Homo sapiens: one gene and its partner. The protein of the gene in region 2 purifies or fractionates together with the protein of the main gene of each other region. This does not show direct contact. Each region holds a gene or a part of one and is shown on either strand. Other genes may lie near its edges.

Region 1 (3,333 bases), on a different chromosome or scaffold from region 2:
CAATGAACCTGGAGTCCAGCCCACCTCTGTCTATGGAGACTTTAGCTGTAAGGAGGAGCCAGAAATTGACAGCCCAGGGGGTAAGAAGGCCCTGGATCCTTATGGCTTCTTAGATGAGGGAGAACCACGTAGGGATGGAGAAAGCTTGGGGGCAGGGCCAGGGAGCAGGGCGGTAAAGCATCTGGGGTACTGACACATTGTGAATTAGCTACGGCTGCCATGCCTTAAGGTTTGCCTGAAGCTGAGTGGATGTTTACTGCTGTGCTGGGAAGAGCAGAGGCCATGTCTATGGCCTTCAGGGGTAGGGGGAAGCACACCTGATGCCACCGTCCCCTACCCTCATACAACCTTCTTCACATCTTCTAGGGGATATTGGGCTGAGTCTACAGCGTGTCTTCACAGATCTGAAGAACATGGATGCCACCTGGCTGGACAGCCTGCTGACCCCAGTCCGGTTGCCCTCCATCCAGGCCATTCCCTGTGCACCGTAGCAGGGCCCCTGGGCCCCTCTTATTCCTCTAGGCAAGCAGGACCTGGCATCATGGTGGATATGGTGCAGAGAAGCTGGACTTCTGTGGGCCCCTCAACAGCCAAGTGTGACCCCACTGCCAAGTGGGGATGGGGCCTCCCTCCTTGGGTCATTGACCTCTCAGGGCCTGGCAGGCCAGTGTCTGGGTTTTTCTTGTGGTGTAAAGCTGGCCCTGCCTCCTGGGAAGATGAGGTTCTGAGACCAGTGTATCAGGTCAGGGACTTGGACAGGAGTCAGTGTCTGGCTTTTTCCTCTGAGCCCAGCTGCCTGGAGAGGGTCTCGCTGTCACTGGCTGGCTCCTAGGGGAACAGACCAGTGACCCCAGAAAAGCATAACACCAATCCCAGGGCTGGCTCTGCACTAAGAGAAAATTGCACTAAATGAATCTCGTTCCCAAAGAACTACCCCCTTTTCAGCTGAGCCCTGGGGACTGTTCCAAAGCCAGTGAAATGTGAAGGAAAGTGGGGTCCTTCGGGGCGATGCTCCCTCAGCCTCAGAGGAGCTCTACCCTGCTCCCTGCTTTGGCTGAGGGGCTTGGGAAAAAAACTTGGCACTTTTTCGTGTGGATCTTGCCACATTTCTGATCAGAGGTGTACACTAACATTTCCCCCGAGCTCTTGGCCTTTGCATTTATTTATACAGTGCCTTGCTCGGCGCCCACCACCCCCTCAAGCCCCAGCAGCCCTCAACAGGCCCAGGGAGGGAAGTGTGAGCGCCTTGGTATGACTTAAAATTGGAAATGTCATCTAACCATTAAGTCATGTGTGAACACATAAGGACGTGTGTAAATATGTACATTTGTCTTTTTATAAAAAGTAAATTGTTTATAAGGGGTGTGGCCTTTTTAGAGAGAAATTTAACTTGTAGATGATTTTACTTTTTATGGAAACACTGATGGACTTATTATTGGCATCCCGCCTGAACTTGACTTTGGGGTGAACAGGGACATGCATCTATTATAAAATCCTTTCGGCCAGGCGCGGTGGCTCACACCTGTAATCCCAGCACTTTGGGAGGCCGAGATGGGTGGATCACCTGAGGTCAGGAGTTCGAGACCAGCCTGGTGAAACTCCATTTCTACTAAAAATGCAAAAATTAGCTGGGCGTGGTTGCGGGTGCTTGTAATCCCAGCTACTCAGGAGGCTGAGGCAAGAGAATCGCTTGAACCTGGGAGGTGGAGGTTGCAGTGAGCCGAGAACATGCCATTGCACTCCAGCCCGGGCACCAAAAAAAAAAAAAAAAAAAAAAACCTTTCATTTGGCCGGGCATGGTGGCTTATGCCTGTAATCCTGGCACTTTGGGAGGCCAAGGTGGGCAGATCACCTGAGGTCAGGAGTTTGAGACCAGCCTGGCCAACATGGTGAAACCTCATCTCTACTAAAAATACAAAAATTAGGCCGGGCACGGTGGCTCACGCCTGTAATCCCAGCACTTTGGGAGGCAGAGGCGGGCGGATCACGAGGTCAGGAGATCAAGACCATCCTGGCTAACACGGTGAAACCCCGTCTCTACTAAAAATATAAAAAATTAGCCGGGCCTAGTGGCGGGTGCCTGTAGTCCCAGCTACTCGGGAGGCTGAGGCAGGAGAATGGCATGAACCCCGGAGGCAGAGCTTGCAGTGAGCCGAGATTGCACCACTGCACTACAGCCTGGGCGACAGAGCGAGACTCCGTCTCAAAAAAAAAAAAAAAAATTAGCCGGGCCTGGTGGCGGGCGCCTGTAATCCCAGCTACTGTGGAGGCTGAAGCACAAGAATCACTTGAACCCGGGAGATGGAGGTTGCAGTGAGCTGAGACTGTGCCACTGCACTCCAGCCTGGGTGACAAGAGTGAGACTTTGTCTCAAAAAAAAAAAAATCCTTTTGTTTATGTTCACATAGACAATGGCAGAAGGAGGGGACATTCCTGTCATAGGAACATGCTTATATAAACATAGTCACCTGTCCTTGACTATCACCAGGGCTGTCAGTTGATTCTGGGCTCCTGGGGCCCAAGGAGTGTTAAGTTTTGAGGCATGTGCCATAGGTGATGTGTCCTGCTAACACACAGATGCTGCTCCAAAAAGTCAGTTGATATGACACAGTCACAGACAGAACAGTCAGCAGCCCAAGAAAGGTCCTCACGGCTGCTGTGCTGGGTAGCACTTGCCATCCAGTTTCTAGAGTGATGAAATGCTCTGTCTGTACCGTTCAATACAGTAGGCACTGGCACTAGCCACATGTGCCAGCTAAGCACTTGAAATGTGGCCAGTGCAATAAGGAATTGAACTTTTAATTGCATTTAATAAACTGTATGTAAATAGTCACATGTGGTCAGTGGTTACCATATTGAACAGTGCAGGTAGATACTGGACTGGGGGCAGATCTGAGGGAGAGGGGTTTGAGTAGTGGGAGGACACTGGGGATAGGGGCTTGGGGCTATTTACCTGCCATTTTGAGTAGTTTGCTATTTTAGCAGCCAACAATAACTATTGGTGCTGAATACCAGCCCTGCAGTGTAGCATGAGACAGGTCCATGCACACATGCATTAGGAAAACACCTTCATGAAGCAGGATTCTGCCTGGGCTGATGCACACAACCTCTATGGAGGGTAAACAGTGTTTCTGAAGACCGTAGTTTGGGAACCCCTGACATATGACAATGCCCCCTTAGATAAGCTCAAGTTACAGGAATGTCTGAGGGTGGAAGGTGTGGATATGTGCTTTTCCTGTCTCCCTCTTCAGTGTCTGGCCATGGGGCATAAACACTACCCAGCAGTAGGTAGGCTGGCCAAGAGAAGCCAGCTTGCATCACCAGCATCATCTA
Region 2 (3,500 bases):
GAGATGGGGTCTTGCTATGTTGCCCAGGCAGGAGTGTTTTGGCTATTCACAGGTGTGATAATAGGGCACTGCAGCCTCAAATTCCTGGCCTCAAGTGATCCTTCCATCTCAGCCTTCCAAGCAGAATGCATCCTGAGCCTTTTTGTCTCTTTTAGTCTTTAAAGTAATACCCCTCTTATTTCTGTACTTACTGAAATCTGCTTTCCAGAGGTCCAGGATTGAAGTCTGACTCTGCCTGGTGTTCTTTTCCTTAGTGATTTATGCACTTTAAGATGGTATAGATTCTTTCTCCTAAAATTCTCATGACTTTCGTTTTCCTGATACTGTGTTTCTTTCTTTTTAAAAAATTTTTATTAGGGACGGGGTCTAACTGTGTTGCTTAGGCTGGTCTTGAACTCCTGGGTTCAAGCGATCTTCCCACCTCGGCTTCCCAAAGTGTTAGGATTACATGCATGAGCTACTGTACCTAGCCTCTTTTGGATGACTTAAGTGCACAGTAGAGAGTCCCTTCATTACTTCCTCAACCTTATTTTTCTTTATTTAAGAAAAAAAGTACAGTAGAATATATTTATCATGGGAAAATGAAAAAGTACAGAAAACCAAGGTGCAAAATAAGTTTAAGTCAAACAAAACTCAACCGCTAGGAGATAATGGCTTAAGACTTTTTCCTATTTGATTATATTCATATATAGAAATATATACACATTTAAACAAAAATAGAATTTACTCTGTTTTCATTCTCCTTGTTATATCCAGTTAGTCATTAGCTCTACTGAGTCTTGGTTGATGCCTGTGGGGCCGTGCCTATTGTACTATGTAAAAGCGTAAATTCAAGTAAAGAATTGACCCATGAGGCCAGGGATGGTGGCTCACGCCTGTAATCCCAACACTTTGGGAGACTGAGGCAGGTGGATCACCTGAGGTCAGGAGTTTGAGAACAGCCTGACCAACATGGTGAAACCCTGTCTCTACTAAAAATACAAAAATTAGCTGGGCATGGTGGTACATGCCTGTAATCCTAGCTACTCAGGAGGCTGAGACAGGAGAATCACTTGAACCTGGGAGGTGGAGGTTGCAATGAGCCAGGATCGTGCCATTGCACTCCAGCCTGGGCAACAAGAGTGAAACTCCTTCTCAAAAAAAAAAAAAAAGAATTGACCCATGTGCTGTATATGCTGCCTGGGGACAACGGCCTTTGTGGTGAAGGCTGAGCATAAAACACCCAAGACTTGGCAGTGGAGCAGGTGTGTCCTCCTTGTCAGAAATCTTGGCTGAGCGATACTTCCCTCCCAGTTTTGGCATCTGTCTACAGCAGGAGTGAACAGGAGGCTTGAGTTTGAGCTAGAGGATTAGCTGGGGAGCTCCCCCCTGCCCACCATAGAGGAGTTCCAGTTTAGCTATGGAGAGCCAGCAGTGCCCAGCAGAGAGGGCATAGCTGAGTTACAGAAGAGAGTCCTGGTATAATCTTGGTTATTTTTGTGTTATCTCAGACTCTGTGGTGGCTGGAGGGGGCAGTCCAACGACAGCAGGACCAGCTGTCCTCACAGCCTCAGATGGCTGAGTCTGAGGAGAGGAGAGGAGAAAGTAATCTACTGAAATAGATGTAAGGCTATCAACCCAGGGTGGGTAAGTCTGGGGAAAAGTCATTAACTTCCCTTGGAGAAGCAGCAACAAATAGAGGCAAAAAGAAAATCTGGCTGGGTGCAATGGCTTATGTCTGTAATCCCAGCACTTTGGGAAGCCAAGGCGGGTGGATCACCTGAAGACAGGAATTCGAGATCAGTCTGGACAACATTGTGAAACCTCTGTCTCTACTAAAAATACAAAAATTAGCTGGGCATGGTGGCAGCGCCTGTAATCCCAGCTACTCAGAAGGCTGAGGCAGGAGAATTGCTTGAACTTGGAAGGGGGAGGTTGCCGTGAGCCTAGATCATGCCACTACACTCCAGCCTGGGCAACAAGAGCAAAAATTCCGTCTCAAAAAAAAAAAAATAGAAAAAAAGAAAATCTGAGGCAAGTGGGCTTGCGTTCTTTTTGGGCATTTTATACATTACTCCATCTCTTTTCTTCCAACAGATCCACAGACCAGCATGGCTGCCACTGCTGCTGTGAGTCCCAGTGACTACCTGCAGCCTGCCGCCTCCACCACCCAGGCGAGTAGGCAGTGGGCTCCGAGGGCTTGGGGCTGCAGCATCCTGGACAGACTCACCGAAAACACTCTCTCTTCACTGTCTCACTATAAATACCCTAGGTTATGAGACTGGGGAAGGTTCAGTTAGCCACATTTTCTTTACTGAGAAACTATGGCCATTTACCTAAGGTGCCGCAGTTGGGCCAGGGGGAAAAACAAGGATTAAACTCTGTGTTCCTTCCACCAGACCTCACTAAAAAAGGAAAAGGAAAACAGAGGCTTTCTCATTGTCTCGAAAGTGTAGCCCTCCCCAGTCTATAAAGTTACATGTTCCGAGTACTAAAAAGCACTTTACTGAAGTATTTATTCCTCCTGTTGCCCCTCCATTTTTTCCTCCCTCCTTTCCTCAGTTGAGCAATCAGGGACCCCTCAGTCCCTGGGGTGGGCTAACAAACTCCATCTGAGAGCCAAACATGCTTCACTGTCCTTAGAAACAAGGCCAGCGGAGAGTAGGAAGTCAGCTCGTGCTGTTAGTTTACCCTGTCTGTGGGGTGCTGCCAGGGGTTCCTTCCTGAGAAAGACATTGCCCACCTTTTCTCCCTCACTTAATGGAGAAACCAGTAGAGAAGGGGAGACAGCAGCCAAGCAGGGGAGGGTACTGGCAACATGCCTGCCCCGGAGGTGGGGAAGACTGGCGTGGAATGCCGCCAGGAGGAGAGGATCATGGACAGAGGCGGCCGGGCAGCGGGCCTTCCTGTCTCACTCCTTTTCTCTGCTGTTTTTTTGCAGGACTCCCAGCCATCTCCCTTAGCCCTGCTTGCTGCAACATGTAGCAAAATTGGCCCTCCAGCAGTTGAAGCTGCTGTGACACCTCCTGCTCCCCCACAGCCCACACCGCGGAAACTTGTCCCTATCAAACCTGCCCCTCTCCCTCTCAGCCCCGGCAAGAATAGCTTTGGAATCTTGTCCTCCAAAGGAAATATACTTCAGATTCAGGGGTCACAACTGAGCGCCTCCTATCCTGGAGGGCAGCTGGTGTTCGCTATCCAGAATCCCACCATGATCAACAAAGGGACCCGATCAAATGCCAATATCCAGTACCAGGCGGTCCCTCAGATTCAGGCAAGCAATTCCCAAACCATCCAAGTACAGCCCAATCTCACCAACCAGATCCAGATCATCCCTGGCACCAACCAAGCCATCATCACCCCCTCACCGTCCAGTCACAAGCCTGTCCCCATCAAGCCAGCCCCCATCCAGAAGTCGAGTACGACCACCACCCCCGTGCAGAGCGGGGCCAATGTGGTGAAGCTGACAGGTGGGGGCGGCAATGTGACGCTCACTCTGCCCGTCAACAACCTTGTGAACG

Evidence for each region.
Region 1: the proteins of SP2 (region 2) and IRF1 purify together in Homo sapiens (affinity purification with western blotting; one study listed by BioGRID). This does not show direct contact.

Annotation. Positions count from the first base shown.
Region 1 is NC_000005.10:132,481,109-132,484,441, reverse strand, and holds the end of IRF1 (interferon regulatory factor 1), read left to right. Parts: coding exon 1-80; intron 81-366; coding exon 367-491; 3' UTR 492-2,833; downstream 2,834-3,333. UniProt on the Homo sapiens protein: Transcriptional regulator which displays a remarkable functional diversity in the regulation of cellular responses.
Region 2 is NC_000017.11:47,913,236-47,916,735, forward strand, and holds part of SP2 (transcription factor Sp2), read left to right. Parts: intron 1-1,490; exon of another isoform or gene 1,491-1,626; intron 1,627-2,076; coding exon 2,077-2,153; intron 2,154-2,920; coding exon 2,921-3,500. UniProt on the Homo sapiens protein: Binds to GC box promoters elements and selectively activates mRNA synthesis from genes that contain functional recognition sites.